Regions from separate parts of the Homo sapiens genome. Here region 2 is reported to be linked to region 1. Evidence: microRNA targets listed by miRTarBase, many of them from high-throughput screens and not tested one by one. Region 1 holds a microRNA gene; the other region holds the end of a gene's coding sequence.

Region 1 (7,868 bases):
GAAGTGGCCACCACCCCTCCTGCTCCCATTGCCCTTGATGGACCCCTGGAGCTCCTGGCGAGGCTCTCCAGGGTCACCTAGACAGTCCCTGACCCACTTTTTCCTGGCTTATGATACTTCACCCCCGGAGGAAATAGGAAAAGAAAGTCAATCCATGGGTTTCTCCTAACACAAAGAAAGCTAAATGCTGTCACTCAGGTGCAAAGTGGCCTGAACATGGGCTTGGAAGCTTTGAAGAAAAGCTTCCAAAGCCACAATGCCTCCTGGAGTCTTTGCTGCTCAGGGCTCTGTCCTTCCCTGGAGCCTGAAGGATGCTCTGTAGAATTCTACTGTCTGCTGCTGGCAGGTCAGGGCTGCCACCTCACTTTACCCAGAGTGACAACCTGGCCAGATGAGGCTGGCTTGGGACATGCCCACCATGCAGGAGCCTGTGGGAGGTGGCGTGGCCCCCTGGGGCGGGGCTGGGTGCCAGCCTGAAAGGCCCATCTTCCAGCAATGGCACCATCTCCTACTGTCAGAAATACAGAAAAACAGGGGTCCTCTGACAACCTTGCAGCTGGGCAGCTCTGCTGTCTCCTTCAGCCCCATGGGGTCCTTGGAGGTGGGCATGAACCACGCAGCTCTGCAGCCTTGCTGGGTGGGGCAGCAGGTACAGGTGTGGGCAGCCTACCAGGGGGTGCAGGGCACTGACGGCACCACGTAGAGACCCTTGCAGGGCTGGGTGTGCCCTGGGTGGTCTCCTGAGGAGCCCAGAGAGTCTGCTCAGGTCCTGACCTGCTCCCGGAGACCAGCAGAGCCTCCCCGTATCAGGGCCCTCTCCATGGAGTCCACTTGCCCTTCAGCACCCACCCCTCTGCCAGCTGCTCCATGCCCAAAGCCTGACTCTGTGACAGCAGCAGAGGCTCCAGTGCCTGGGTGGCCCCTCAGTTCATCCAGGGTGGTGTGCAGGGGGAGGGAAGGGGAGGTTTCCTGGCTGTACTCCTTGGCTGAGCCTGGCTCCTGTTGGACAGTTACCTCCCCTGTGTTAGGTCAGCCACCCCCACCGCCACCCCCACTGCCATCATGGAACTGTCGTTGCCACAGCCATGCTGTCATCCCCCTTGGAGCCTTCCTCCCCTGCTGGGGCCCCACCACGCTCCTGAAGGGCGCTGCACATTCTTCCTCTTGTCACTGTGTCCCTCCACTGACATTAGCCTTCCTGTGTCTGTAAGGCACTGCCCATGCTGGGAAGGACATGGGGGCGCTCCTGGAGGGCAGAGGGCCTCGAGGGGCAGGCCTGGGACCCTTGAAGGGAGGACTGTGAGGCCACGAGAGAAGGTCACGCGGCTGGGTGTCAGGGCCGGTGGCTACACCAGCACCAGCTCCCCAGCCCCGTCCCCTGCAAAATCCAGGCCAGGCGCAAGTTGGGGAGGGGTCTCAGGGTGGCCAACAGCCTGCTCTCTCCAGAAGAGGCTCTGTCTTCATGGATTTCTGGTGGCCTCTCTTGTCTTTTGTCAACCTGTGTTCTCTGTTTATCAATAATATCAATGACACAAATCCCAAGCCAGGGGCTGAATTGCAGCATCTGCTGGGAAACCCGTCCTTCTTCCACTTGCCCCTTCAATGAATGCCATCTGAAAGGAAGGAGCACAGGAGCCTGGGGATGTAGAGGGCCATCATGCTGCCTCCCATGGGCTCCTTCATGTCTGCACCCCCAAGTGGGTTGCAGGGATGCCTGACTGAAGGGGTGCACCACAGGTGTCCTCACACAAAGGGACGCCTGCTCGCAGAGCACTGGAAGGATGAGGGCTCAATGGCCTGGGAGGCCCAGGCTGGCTGTGGGACCCAGGCCCTGATGCCTCCACCAACCCCAAACCACCCCCACTGCCCCTGGCCCCATGGTGCAATCATGGCTGGCTTGGGTATGTATTGGGGATGTGCTGGGCTGGGCAGCCTGGACCCAGGCTCCCCCTAAAATCTAGACTAGAGAGGGGTGGGCGCTGAGCACTGCCCAGTGGAGGGGCCTGGGGGAGCTTCTAGGTGAGGCTCTAAGGCTACAGAGCCTAGGCAGGGGTTCTCAGGAGAGGGCCTGTGGCCAGTCTGAGGTGGGCTGGGCCACAGGTCCCAGGATGGACTCCAGGGAGCACTGCACCTGCCCAGGAGCCCCGCAGGTGAAGCAGCCTCCCAGGCCCTGTGTCTCCCAGGGACTGCCCTGGCCTGGGCTATGGCAAGTCCCGTATGTCTCCTGGAGACATCAGCTCCCGTCTGGGTGGCCAGGCGGACTCACGGGCATGGGCCAGCACAGGGTGTGGCAAGAGAGATCAGCTGGGAGAGGAGAATTGGGGACTGCAGGCCTTGGTGCCTGCTGACCTCCACCCCTCTGAAGAGAGCCTGGCTCAGGGCTTCTGGACTCAAAGGAGGGCAGGCAGGACTCCCCAGTTGTCCTGGGCCTGTGTGAAGGTCCCCCTGGAGCTCCTAGGGGTCACCAATGCATAGCCAGGCAGGTGGTGCACTGTGGCAGCTCCAGGGAGAAAGATGCACTGGACCATGAGGCCAGGCAGCAGGGCTGTGATCAGCAGGAGGGTAGGAGAACAGAGGGGCTCAGAGGTGGACGTCCTATGTGGTTGGCTTGCAGGATCCGGGGACACTTCTGACGCTAGGGGACATGCTGGGGCTGTGGACAAGGATCATGGAGTGGGCAGCCCTTGAAGGCATCTGAGACATGCTGATGACACGACGGGCGTTGGGGGCTGACAGTGCAAGGCAGCCATAGGCCTGTGGCCAGTTCTAGGGCAGCTGTCACGGACAGGCACAGATGTCCTGGCTGGGGTCCTGAGAAGCTCCCGAGAAAGGTTTCCATGGGCCTCAGAAGCCAGGCTGTGTCCCACAGCACAGATGCAGGCCCTGGGCATCTTACCCTCCTGGGTGACCCTGGAGGGGCCAATCACAGGTGGGGCCTGCAGAGACACTAAGGCTTCAAGGCCAGGGCCTCGCGGGCTGCATCCTCTGTATCCCCAGGGCTCCCTGGAGAGTCCTGCTTTCCCACTTCCAGGAGACACATCTGCTAGGCAGGTGTGGTGTTCTGGGCCAGGAGCCTCCCACTTGGCATGTGGTCCTGGGCTCTGGGCTCTTCACCTACAGGTCAAGCCTGGGACCTGTTGTCCATGGCCAGGACTGGCACAAATCTGATCCTTTTGTGGAGGTCAGCAGTCTGTCTTCCAGCTTTTCTGCCACCAGCTAATGCTTATCTGGTATGAGCTGTGCCCGGCATTTGCTGGGCTCTTTACACCCTGAGGAGACTGCTCTCACACCCCTGTTCTACAGGGGGAAACTGAGGCTCACTGGGGGTTTGTGGCATGCCCCCGGCCGCAGCAGCTTGAGTGTCTTAGTCAGGTTTACAACCCACTGGCTGGATCCACAGCTCAGGGAGCCTTTCTCCACAGTGACATAAACTGTGGGGTCACTCCCTCAGCTCATGGCTATGGACCTCACGGCCCCTAAGTGCTGGCTGAGGAAGTACGACCATCCCACCCCTCCATGAGGGTCCCTGCCTGGAAGCACAGGGAGCACAGATGCTTCCTGGGTGCAGCAGCCCTGAGCCATGCCCCACTCTCGGGCTCTGCATTAGTTAAGGTTTTCCCGAGAAACAGAAGTGATAGGATGCGTGTGTGTTTATTAAAGGAGATGGATGGCAAGGAATTGCTTCATGAGATAGTGGAGTCTGAGAAGTCCCCAGATCTGCTGCTGGCCAGCTGGAGCCCCAGGAGAGCTGATGGAGTTTGTCCCAGTCTGAAGGCCAGGGGCTTGACATGCATGAAGAGCCTGTACTTCGGTTCAGGTCTGAAGCCTGGAAAAGACCAAGCTCCCAGCTTAAGGCAGCCAGGCAGAATGAATTATCTCCTACTTGGCCTTTGTGTTCAGCTTAGGTCTGCGACAGGTTGGATGGGTCTACCCACACTGGGAGGCTGTCTGCTTTGCAGTCCATGGATTCAAGTGTTCATCTCACCCAGAGCCCCCCTGACACACACCCAGCATAATGTCTGGCCAAACATCCAGGCCCCCTGTGTGCCAGTCAAGCGGACGTGTGAAATTAACCAATGTGGGCTCTGAGATTCCAGGCCCAGGAGACCCACATCCTCCAGCTTCTGCTGATGTGCCCTGGGGTCCCTGGGGACAGGCTCTGGCTTGGTGCCTGGATGGGGTTGGGGCCACTCAGCAGCATGTCACCTGGGCACGTCCTTCACACCCCAAGCCACCCGCCTCCTCTGTAAGTGGGCTGTACTGCCTTAACTGATGACCCCTGCAGCTGCTCTGAAAACTGGTCCCAGTGGAAGTGACATGAAGACCACCTCCTCAGGTGTGTCCCTGTTAGCTAAGACCAGATGAGGATGCTGGGACTGGGCAGGGTCAGCTGACTGCCCAAGGTCCTGTGGCCAGTTAGAGGCACCGCTGGGATCTGAACCCATGTGGTCTAGCTCCAGAAGCCACGCTCCTACCCCCAGGCCATCCCACTGCCAGCTCCTCATGGCTGTTTCTGAAGGTGATGGAGGGACTCACCAGCCCAGGTTCCCAGGACTGTCTGGGCTTTGTGGCAGGAAACTGGGGCAGAGCAGGGGCCTCCGGGTGGGAAGGATGACCCTTTCCCAGCAAGACAGGACCTCGTCTCTTGCTAGAGCCCAGCTGGGGTTAGGTTTGGGATAGTGTGCTCAGGACATGTGATCAGAGGGAAGCTGGAAAGCTCTGAAGGGGGAAGGCTCCCCACACATGGATAATCCCTCATACAGAGACCCCAGACTCAGCATAGGATCCCAGACAGAATGGCCTTCACACGCTGCCTGGCTCCTTCCAAAATCAATACAGGCTCTTAAAATGCTGAAATAGTTCTGGTGCATGCTGAGATTTGTTGGACTGAGTTTAAAATCCTGGTGTGTGTGTGTGTGTGTGTGTGCGTGCGTGCGTGCACTGAGAGTGCTGGTGAGCTTGGAGAGGTTCCAGTCTTAAAAAGGACCCTGGCCCCGAGAGGCCACCTGACCACCAAGAACAGCCCGTGTAATTCTGGAAGGTGGATTTGGGATTCCTGCTTTCATGCCCTGAGGGCCCCTGAGGGCTCAGGACTGAGGGACAGAGGCTGCTGGGATGAAAAAGGTGCATCCCTGGCTGGGAAACTCCAGGCTTGGGTGGGCTTCTGCTGAGACCCAGCTCCATGCAGAGGTTCATACTGCCTGTGCCTCAGGGACCAGCATATCCACCTCCTGTCATCCAGTTGAGGCCTCAGGGCTCCCAGGGAAAGGAGCAGGGTCCCCCCAAGCCCAGGATACCAGGACCAGCCGGGCTCCAGCCCCACCCCTCCTTGTGCATTTCTGCCCTCCCAGGCTTCCCTGCGCCTTCATTACCAACCTTGTCCTCAGCAACCACGGCTTGTAAACCATATTCCACGTGCTTGGGTTTTCCCTCTGGACACACAGGCTCTGAGAAGATGGTTTAGGCAGTTCCCAACTTCACGATCACAGCAGGTCCTGCCAACCCACCCTGGACCGTCCCTAGCCTGGACCAGGGACACCCCACCCATGGGAGGATGGGTTGGAGCTGTCCTGGAGCTAGGCTGGACTGGGCCCTGCAGCCTCCAGGCAAATGCCTTTTCCTTTACAAAGCTGGTAAAGTGCTCTAGGTCACTCACCCTTGGAGGATCTCTCTGCTGCTTCATCATCTGGGAGTCGCTGTCTCCATTCCCAGGGATTCTCTGTGTCTTTAAGTCTAAGTTGGGGATTGGCCCGGCCACACCAACTTTCATCCCATCCGTATTTACACTCCACGGCTTTCCACACCCTCTTGCCTTCTACCTTTCTATACTTCACTGTGACCTCTGTAAGCAACGTCTGACACAAGACTTTGCTTTTGTGTCCAATCTGACAGTCTCTGTTCAGTACATTCATGGTTACTGTTTTCTCTGGATCTAGGAAAATTTATTTCCACCACTTATTTTTTTGTCCTGGCTTCTGGACTTCCATTTTCTCTCTCCTTTCCTAACTTCTATTAGAAATACTCAATTTTCTGTATTCTTTTTCTTCTTCCCAATTGCTTGGAAGTTATGGTAGGCTGATCATGACTCCCACAGATACACCCATGTCTAATCTGGAACCTGTGAATATCACCTGTATTGCAAAAGATGTGATCGAGTGAGGGACCTTGAGAGGAGGAGCATGTCCTGGGTCATCCAGGGCCCTAAATACCATGTATCCTATAAAAGAGAAGCAGAGGGAGTTTTGACCCAGACCTGCACAGGGGACAAGGCCCTGTAAACAGAGAGCAGGCATTGGAGAGACATGGCCCAGCTCAGGAATGATGCCAGCTGTGGGAAGCTGGAAGAGGCCAGGAAGGCTCCTCCCCCGAGCCTCAGAGGGAGCATGGCTCTGCCTCCTCCACACCTTGATTTCTGTCTCCTGGCCTCCAGGATTGCAAGAGAATACATTTTTGTTGTTATAAACTACCAGACTTGTGGTAACTTCTTATAGCAATCACAGGAAACTAACACAGAGATCATATTTTCTATTTCTTTAATAAATTGTCCTAAAGTTTTAATACCTGTGCTAGAAAGGCATGCTCCTTGTGTAGACACAGCCCGTGTCTCCCCCTGCTCTTTGCCCGGTACTGGGCATGCTAGGCTTTGCTGTTTGGAGTACTAGCCTCACCCTGTTTGTATGGCCATAAATTAATTATTACTTTTCTTTGAATTGTCAAGGCTTTATTGGATCTACCTACAGATTTACCAACTTTGCTCACCATTGCTTCTTTAAAAAATGGTTCTTTTTGTAGCAAAAGATATACATCACAAAAATGCCATTTTAACCATTTTAAGTGTATAATTCACATTAATTACATTCACGATGTTGTGCAACCATCACTGATATCTACTTCCAAAACTGGAACTCTTGTGCACTGCAAACTTTTTCACCATCCCAAACAGATAATCTGAACCCATTAAGCAATAACCTCCCATCCCCCACCCCTAGCCCTTGGTAACCTCTAATCTGCTTTGTCTCTATAAATTTGCCTAGTTTAGATCTGGAATCCTACAATATTTGTCCTTTTGTGTCTGGCTTATTCTACTCAGCATAATGTTTTCAAGGTTCATCTCTGTTGTCATGTGTGTCAGAACTTTGTTCCTTTGTGCGGATGAATCATATTCCGTGTGGTGGAGCACGCTGTATTTATCCATTCATCTGTCGGTTGACTTTTGCCTGGTTTCCATCTTTTGGCTTTTGTGGATGATGCTGCTATAAACTTTGGGACACAAGCATTTTTTGATTTCTTGTTTTCAATTCTGTTGAGTATATACCTAGGAATGGAATTATTGGGTCACAATTCCATGGTAACTATACATTTAGCTTTTTGAGGAATGACCACACTATTTTACACAACAGTTATACCACTTTCCATTTCCATCATCAATGCACAAGAGTTCCAGTTTCTCCACATCCTCACCAGCAGTTGTTACTTTTAGCTTTTCTGATTATAGCCATGCCAATAGGTGAAGTGATGGTGGCTTTAATTTACATTTCTCTAAAGATTAGTGATGTTGAGCATCTTTTCATGTGCTTATTGGCATTTGTGCATCTTCTTCAGAGAAACATCTATTCAAATCCTTTGCCCATTTTTATTTTATTTTATTTTTATTTTTATTTATTTTTTGAGACAGGGTCTCATTCTGTCTCCTAGTCTGGAGGGCAGTGGCATGATCTCACTGCAACCTCTGATTCCCAGCCTCAAGTCATCCTCCAGCCTTAGCCTCCAGAGTAGCTGGGATTACAGGCATAAGCCACCATGCCTGGCTAATTTTTGTATTTTTTGTAGAGATGGAGTATCACTATGTTGCCCAGGCTGGTCTCAAA
Region 2 (7,434 bases), not on the chromosome of region 1:
TTGTTATGCAACTATCACCCCCATCCACCTTCAGAACGATTTGCGTCTTCCCCAGCTGAAATTCTATACCTGTTAAACACCAACTCCCCTTTTTCCTCTTCCCTCCGGCCCTCGGCAACCATCCTTCTACTTTCTGTCTCTATGACTTTGTGTCTTGTTTTTTTTTTTCTTTATCTCCAGCTTCCCAAATGCTGCCTGCTATATAGTAGGTGTTTAGTAAGTATTTGTTGAGTGCACGCGTGGGAAGGTGCCAGGGTGGGCGGGAGGGCTGGGAGCGGATGGCGGAGATGTTCAGACACAGCTGGGGTCGCGGGCGTCTGACTGCGAGCTGTCCTCTCTCCCGCAGGCCTGCTGCTCTTGGTGAGCCTGGAGGTGTTCCGGCATTCCGTGAGGGCCCTGCTGCAGAGAGTCAGCCCGGAGCCTCCCCCGGCCCCACGCCTCACCTACGAGTACTCCTGGTCCCTGGGCTGCGGCGTGGGGGCCGGCCTGATCCTGCTGTTGGGGGCCGGCTGCTTTCTGCTGCTCACACTGCCTTCCTGGCCCTGGGGGTCCCTCTGTCCCAAGCGGGGGCACCGGGCCACCTAGAGCCACGCGTGAGACTTCTCTAAGCAACCACCGAGCCCTTTGACCTTCTCCATTGTACCCCCAAGATCTTTTTGCCCCATCTCCTAGAGAAACTGTGTTCTCCCTGCTCGGGGGCCCATGTTTTTTTACACGCCTGCCTCCTGTCCCCTTATCCTTTCTCCCTCTGTAAATACGTTTTTCTCTGTGGCTGTATGTGGGTTGCTTGGGGGTGGGATGGGAAGAGGCTCTTTGCAAACGAGGGTCCCCAGAGAAGACTGGCGGGGACCTGATGGGGTAGCTGGGGTGTGGGGTTGGGGGATGAGGTCAGGGGGTCTTGGGTGGGAGTTGGGGGCCCCTTCATTTCCCAGGTCTGGATCGATTCACTTGCCGGGAGAGACTTTTTACAACTCATCTGCAGCTCCGGGTGCGGTTGGGGGAGATAGCGAAGGGTCTGGCCTCGCTGTGATCTGATTTGGGATTAAAGGTTTGGAAATTTAACAACTTTGCTTTGGAGTCTATTTGTGATGTGATCGTGCATTCTGGGGTAAAGAAAAGTGACCCCATATTCCCTCCAGAAACATACCCTCCAGAAACACTTTTAAGCCCAGAAGTCACATGAAAACGAACCCATACACAATGGTTGAGAGTGTGGAAAACACAATATATTTTTTATTTTTATTTTTATTTTGAGACGGAGTCTTGCTCTGTCTCCCAGGCTGGAGTGTAGTGCTGCAATCTTGGCTCACCGCAACCTCCGCCTCCTGGGCTCAAGTGATTCTCCTGCCTCAGCCTCGCAAGTAGCTGCGTTTACAGGCACGAGCCACCATGCCCAGCTAATTTTTGTATTTTTTTTTTTTTTTTAGAAGAGACGGGGTTTTACCATGTTAACCAGGCTGGTCTCGAACTCCTGATCTCAAGTGATCCACCTGTCTCAGCCTCCCAAAGTGCTGGGATTACAGGCGTGAGCCACCGTACCCCACCCAGATTTCCCCTTTACACATGACTCCTGTCATACGTGATTAGGATTTACCCCCAATGACCTTATTTTAACTTGATTATCTCTGTAAAGACCGTATCTCCAAATGAGGTCACATTCTTAGGTACTGGGGGTTAGGGTCCAACATATATATATATATATACATTTTGTAGGGGAGAACATTCAACCATTAACAGTGTATATATTCTAAATTGTGTTTTCTGGTCGGGTGTGGCGGCTCACGCCTGTAATCCCAGCACTTTGGGATGCCAAGGCGGGTGGATCACCTGAGGTCAGGAGTTCAAGACCAGCCTGGCCAACACGGTGAACCCCCGTCTCTACTAAAAATACAAAAATTAGCTGGGTGTGGTGGCAGGCACCTGTAATCCCAGCTACTCGGGAGGCTGAGTCAGGAGAATTGCTTGAACCTGGGAGTTGGAGGTTGCAGTGAGCCGGGATCTCGCCACTGCACTCCAGCCTGGGTGACAGAGCAAGACTCCGTCTCAAAAAAAAAAAAAAAAAAAAAAAAAATCAAAAAGGTGGGGGGAAGGGGGATTGGTTCAGGAAAGCCTTCCGAAGAAGATGACGAACTTGAGTCTTCAAGGTGAGTAAGAATCAGAGAAAGTGGAGAACGTCACGGGCGTTCCAGCTGGGTGGGAGAGCCTGGACAGAAACAAGAGGAAAAACATGATGAACCTGTGAGTGAGGAAATGTGAACGCTGGTGTTCAGAGTGAGACACAGGAAACGTGAGAGGGTTGGGGTGGGCTGTCTTATGAACAAGGTGGAGAGACTCAGATGCTCAACAGAACAGCTTGGCCTTTACCCTGAGGGTACTGAGGAGCCATGGGAGCTTGCTGAGCAGAGACACACTGGCATCAGGTCAAGGGGTTGAAACAAGGTTTCTTATTCTTGAAGTCACTAAATTGCAGACCCGGAAGACAGACTAGTGGTTGCCAGGTGTTAAGAAAAGGGTGAGTCTTGGCCCCACGCGACGGCTCATGCCTGTAACTCCAGCACCTTGGGAGGTCGAGGCGGGTGGATCACCTGAGGTCAGGAGTTCGAGATCTGCCTGGCCAACATGGTGAAACCCTGTCTCTACTAAAAACAAACAAACAAACAAAACAAATCAACAACAACAAAACATACAAAAATTAGCTGGGTGTGGTGGCTCACATCTGTAATCCCAGCACCTTCGGAAATGCCTGTTCTAATTTAGGTCCATGGGCACAGGCCCTAGGGTAGAGCCCTTGCCAGAGACCCTGCCCTTCTCTACCCAGCAGTTCTCTGCCCCCCTCCCATATCAAAATGCTTTTTCTGCATCTATTGAGATGATCATGTGATTTTATTTTTATTTTTATTTTGCAGTCTCACTCTGTCGCCCAGGCTGGAGGGCAGTGGTGCGATCTCGGCTCACGGCAACCTCCGCCTCCCGGGTTCAAGCAATTCTTGTGCCTCAGCCACCCCAGTACCTGGGATTACAGGTGTGCGCCACCAGACCCAGCTAATTTTTGTATTTTTAGCACAGATGGGGTGTCACCACGTTGGCCTGGCTGGTCTTGAACGCCTGACCTCAAGTGATCGTCCCACCTCCGCCTCCCAAAGTGCTGGGGTTACAGGCGTGAGCCACCGCGCCCAGCTGACCATGCGATTTTTGTTTCTAATTCTGCATTCTTCCATTCAACAAGCAGAAGTGCCCCGCAGTGCCTGGGCACCTGGGAGCCAGGCTGGTGTGAAAGCCCAGCTCCCCGACCTATGGCTGGGGCAACAGCTTCACCTCTCTCTGTCTTCGTTCCTTCATCCCTAAAGACGGTGCGTGAGCTCAATCCTGTACCTACTCCCAGGAGTCACCGTCGGGAGTAAACGCCATCATGAGCCCTGCAAAGCTCCCAGGAGACCGCCTGGCACGTGGTCGCAACTCGATCTGCCTTTGCTGTTAGTTTTTCTCAAGTGGCACTTACAGAGTAAACAGGGACCCCCGACGACGAGCTGACAGCCTGCTGATGGAAACAGATACTAATCACATCACTGAAGTAATGAGCGTGCAATTATAAACCAAGTTAAGTGCTAGGAGACAAGAGAGTCCACAATTTTTTTTTTGTTGTTTGACTTTGTGCCCAGCCAGGTCAGGGAAGCCTCAAGAGACATCTGCCATGGGGGTGGCGGAGATAGTTGGTCTTGGGGGAATGGCCCTTCCTTCCTTCCTTCCTTCCTTCCTTCCTTCCTTCCTTCCTTCCTTCCTTCCTTCCTTCCTTCTTTTCTTTCTTCCTCTTTCTTTCTTTCTTCTCTCTCTCTCTCTCTTTCTTTCTTTCCTTCTTTCTTTTTCTTTTTTTTTTTTTGAGCCGAAGTCTCGCTCTGTCACCCAGGCTGGAGCTCGGTGGTGCAATCTCGGCTCACTGCAAGCTCCACCTCCCAGGTTCACGCCATTCTCCTGCCTCAGCCTCCCGAGTAGCTGGGACTACAGGCGCCCGCCACCAAGCCTGGCTAATTTTTTTGTATTTTTTTTTAGTACAGACGGGGTTTCACCTTGTTAGCCAGGATGGTCTCGATCTCCTGACCTCATGATCCACCCGCCTCAGTCTCCCAAACTGCTGGAATTACAGGCGCGAGCCACTGCGTCTGGCCTCTCTCTCTTCCTCCCTCCCTCCCTTCCTTTCTTCCTTTTTCTTTCTTTCTTTCTTTTTTCTTCTTTCTTTCTTTCTTTGTTTCTTTCTCTTTCTCTTTCTCTCTTTCTCTCTCTCTTTCTTTCTTTCTCTCTTTCTTTCTTTCTTTTCAAGATGGAGTCTCACTCTGTCCCCCAGGCTGGAGTGCAATGGCACAATCATGGCTCACTGCAGCCTCGACTTTCCAGGTTCAAGCGATTCTCGTGCTTCAGTCCCCCAAATCCCTGGGACTACAGGCACACACAGCCACAGCCAGCTAAGTTTTTGTATTTTTTGTAGAGATGGGGATCTCCCACTGTTGCCTACATTGGTCTTGCACTTCTGGTCTCAAGTGACCCACTCGCCCTGGCCTCCCAAAATGCTGGGATTACAGGCATGAGCTACCGTGCCTGGCCACTCTTCATTAAAAAAAAGATAAATAAATAGAGATGGGGTCTCACTGTGTTGCCCAGGCTGGTCTCAAACACCAAGGCTCGTATGATTCTCCTGCCTCGGCCTCCCAGGTACATGAACCACCGCACCTGGTGGGAATGGCTCTTTGTCCAGTGGGGTCATCATTCTGAAAACTCTTTCTTACCCGGGGTCAGGGCAGGGAAGGTTCAAAGCCAGAGACTCAAGAGAAAAGGGAGATGGCAATTTTCCCCCAAACCCTCCCTGACCACACTCCGAGTGGTTCCCCCACGGCCAGTTCAGGCTTCAGCTCTGGGTGGGGAGAGACTGGAGGGAGGGGAAGGCAGAGATATAACATAGATTGATCAGAAGTGGGAGAAGGAATTACAGACCTCACAAAGACAAATGACTGGAATCACATCATCCTATGAAACAATGTATTGTTGGGGCTCAGAAAACAATACCCCCGAAGTAAGGATGACGTTTGTCAGGTGGAGCATTTGAACTAAAGGAGATTAGAAGGTCTCAGAGGCGGCCGGGCCATCATCTCTACAAAAAATACAAAATAACTAGCTGGGTATGGTGGTAAGTGTCTGTAGTCCCAGTTACTGAGGAGGCTGAGGCAGGAGAATCACTTGAACCCAGGAGATGGAGTTTCAGTGAGCCGAGATCATGCCACTGCACTCCAGCCTGGGTGACAGAGTGAGACCCTGTCTCAAAATAAAATAAAATAAATAAAATAAAATAAAATAAATTAGCTGCTGCTGCTGCTGATGCACAGTGCTATGTATGAGTGTTCCAACAGTAGCTATTTTAATTAAATTAATTTTTTTGAGACAGGGTCTCTCTCTTTCACCCAGGCTGGAGTGCCGTGGCGTGATCACAGCTCACTGCAGCCTTGACCTCCCAGGCTCAAGTGATCCTCCCACCTCAGCCTGCTGAATAGCCGGAACTGCAGGTGCATGCCACCACACCAGGCCAATTTAAATTTTTTTTTTAAAGAGATGAGATTTCACCATGTTGCCCAAGCTGGTCTTGAACTCCTGAGCTCAAGCGATCTGCCCACCTCAACCTCCCGAAGTGCTGCAATTACAGACATGAGCCATCGCGTCCAGCCTATTTTAATTTTATAACCTCTCATGAAATCTCTCCTTCCTCAATTTCTCTTCTGAGGGTTCTGACTTTAGCCGGAATTGGAAAGAGGCCCAATGCTTCATGAAGGATGACAGCTGGAGAAGTACTAGAAGGTTGCCTGGCAACAGTGGTGTTAGGGCAGAAAGGAGCAAGTCCCTGGGTGGTTTCCTAGCAGAAGGAATGTGGGCAGGGCTGAGCCTAGGAAGCAAGATAGGAGATGACAAGGGTGCCCAGATCATCAACTTCTGAAGAATTTCTCATCCCTGCACCCCAGAGCCTCTGGACACAGCCCATCTCTCATCTCTCTCTCTCTCTCTCTCTCTGTCTCTCTCTTTTTCTCCCCTCCCTTCTCATCTTTTCCTCGTCTTTTTTCCCTTTCCCTCTCATCCCTCCCTCCTCCTCCTTTTACTTCTTTCTTCCTTTTCTTCTTCCTCTTCCTCCTTCTCCTATTACTATTACTACTGATAATAACAATAGCTAACATTTGTTAAATGCCTCATCTGAGAGATTTTCTTTCGGGGTGATTAAAAGTTTCTGATGCTAGGCCAGGTGCTGGGGCTCACACCTTTAATCCCAGCACTTTGGGAGGCCAAGTTAGGCAGATCGCTTGAGCTCAGGAGTTCAAGAACAGCCTGGGCAACATGGTGAAAGCCAGTTCCCTATAAAAAAAAAATACAAAAATTAGCCAGGCATGGCGGTGCATGCCTGCGGTCCCAGCTACTCGGGAGGCTGAGGTGGGAAGATCACTTGAGCCCAGAAGGTCAAGGCTGCAGTGAGCTGTGATTGCACCCTTGCAATCCAGCCTGGAAGACAGAGTGAGACCCTGTCTTGAAAAAAAAGAAAAAAAAAAAAGGCCAGGCGCGGTGGTTCACGCCTGTAATCCCAGCACTTTGGGAGGCTGAGGTGGGCAGATCATGAGGTCAGGAGATCGAGACCATCCTGGCTAACATGGTGAAACCCCGTCTCTACTTAAAAAAAGTACAAAAAATTAGCTGGGCGTGGTGATGGGCACCTGTAGTCCCAGCTGCTCGGGAGGCTGAGGCAGGAGAATGGCACGAACCCAGGAGGTGGAGGTTGCAGTGAGCCAAGATCACACCACTTCACTCCAGTCTGGGCAACAGTGCAAGACTCCGTCTCAAAAAAAAAAAAAATTTTTTTTCCTGACACTAGATAGTGGCAATGCTTGCACAACATTTTGGAGGTACTTATGTACTTAGTATCAGTAAGTATAGTACATTTTTTAAATAGTTAGAATGGTAAAATCTTGCTTTAAGTAACGGTAAGATTTTACCACAAAAATAAAGTCCAGGCATGGGTAAAGAATAGTTTACGACCACTATGAAATAAAGAGAAGTGAGCATGAGGAGGTTCTGAAATGGGTATCACTCCCTGATAAGAAGCTAGAAGGAGGCCAGGCGCGGTGGCTCACGCCTGTAGCCCCAGCACTTTGGGAGGCTGAGGTGGGCAGATCACGAGGTCAGGAGTTCAAGACCAGCCTGGCCAATATGGTGAAACCCCATCTCTGCTAAAAATACAAAAATTAGCTGGGCATGGTGGTAGGTGCCTGTAATTTCAGCTACTCGGAAGGCTGAGGCAGGAGAATCGCTTGAACCTTGGAGGCGGAGGTTGCCTCCAAGATCACGCCACTGCACTCCAGCCTGGGCAACAGAGCGAGACTCCGTCTCCAAAAAAAAAAAAAAACAAGGAAG

Evidence for each region. The annotated mature microRNA hsa-miR-5100 reads UUCAGAUCCCAGCGGUGCCUCU and lies in region 1 at 4,419-4,440, opposite strand. An mRNA with a match to its seed (bases 2 to 7 or 8) in the 3' UTR can be bound and repressed. Matches are read on the target gene's strand: a 7mer-m8 pairs with bases 2 to 8, a 7mer-A1 pairs with bases 2 to 7 and ends in A, and an 8mer does both.
Region 2: miRTarBase lists CACNG6 as a target of hsa-miR-5100. Seed matches in the 3' UTR shown: 7mer-m8 at 1,029-1,035.

The regions. Positions count from the first base shown.
Region 1 is chr10:42,994,202-43,002,069 of GRCh38, reverse strand. MIR5100 (microRNA 5100) reads right to left here and starts at 4,507; the gene lies at 4,389-4,507. RefSeq lists enhancers at 850-1,545, 4,140-4,640.
Region 2 is chr19:54,011,605-54,019,038 of GRCh38, forward strand. It overlaps CACNG6 (calcium voltage-gated channel auxiliary subunit gamma 6), which reads left to right. Exons shown (of 4, transcript NM_145814.2): 4 at 347-1,062. The coding sequence ends at 585. Among named protein-coding and RNA genes, the nearest start is that of CACNG6, 24 kb to the left of the region's middle.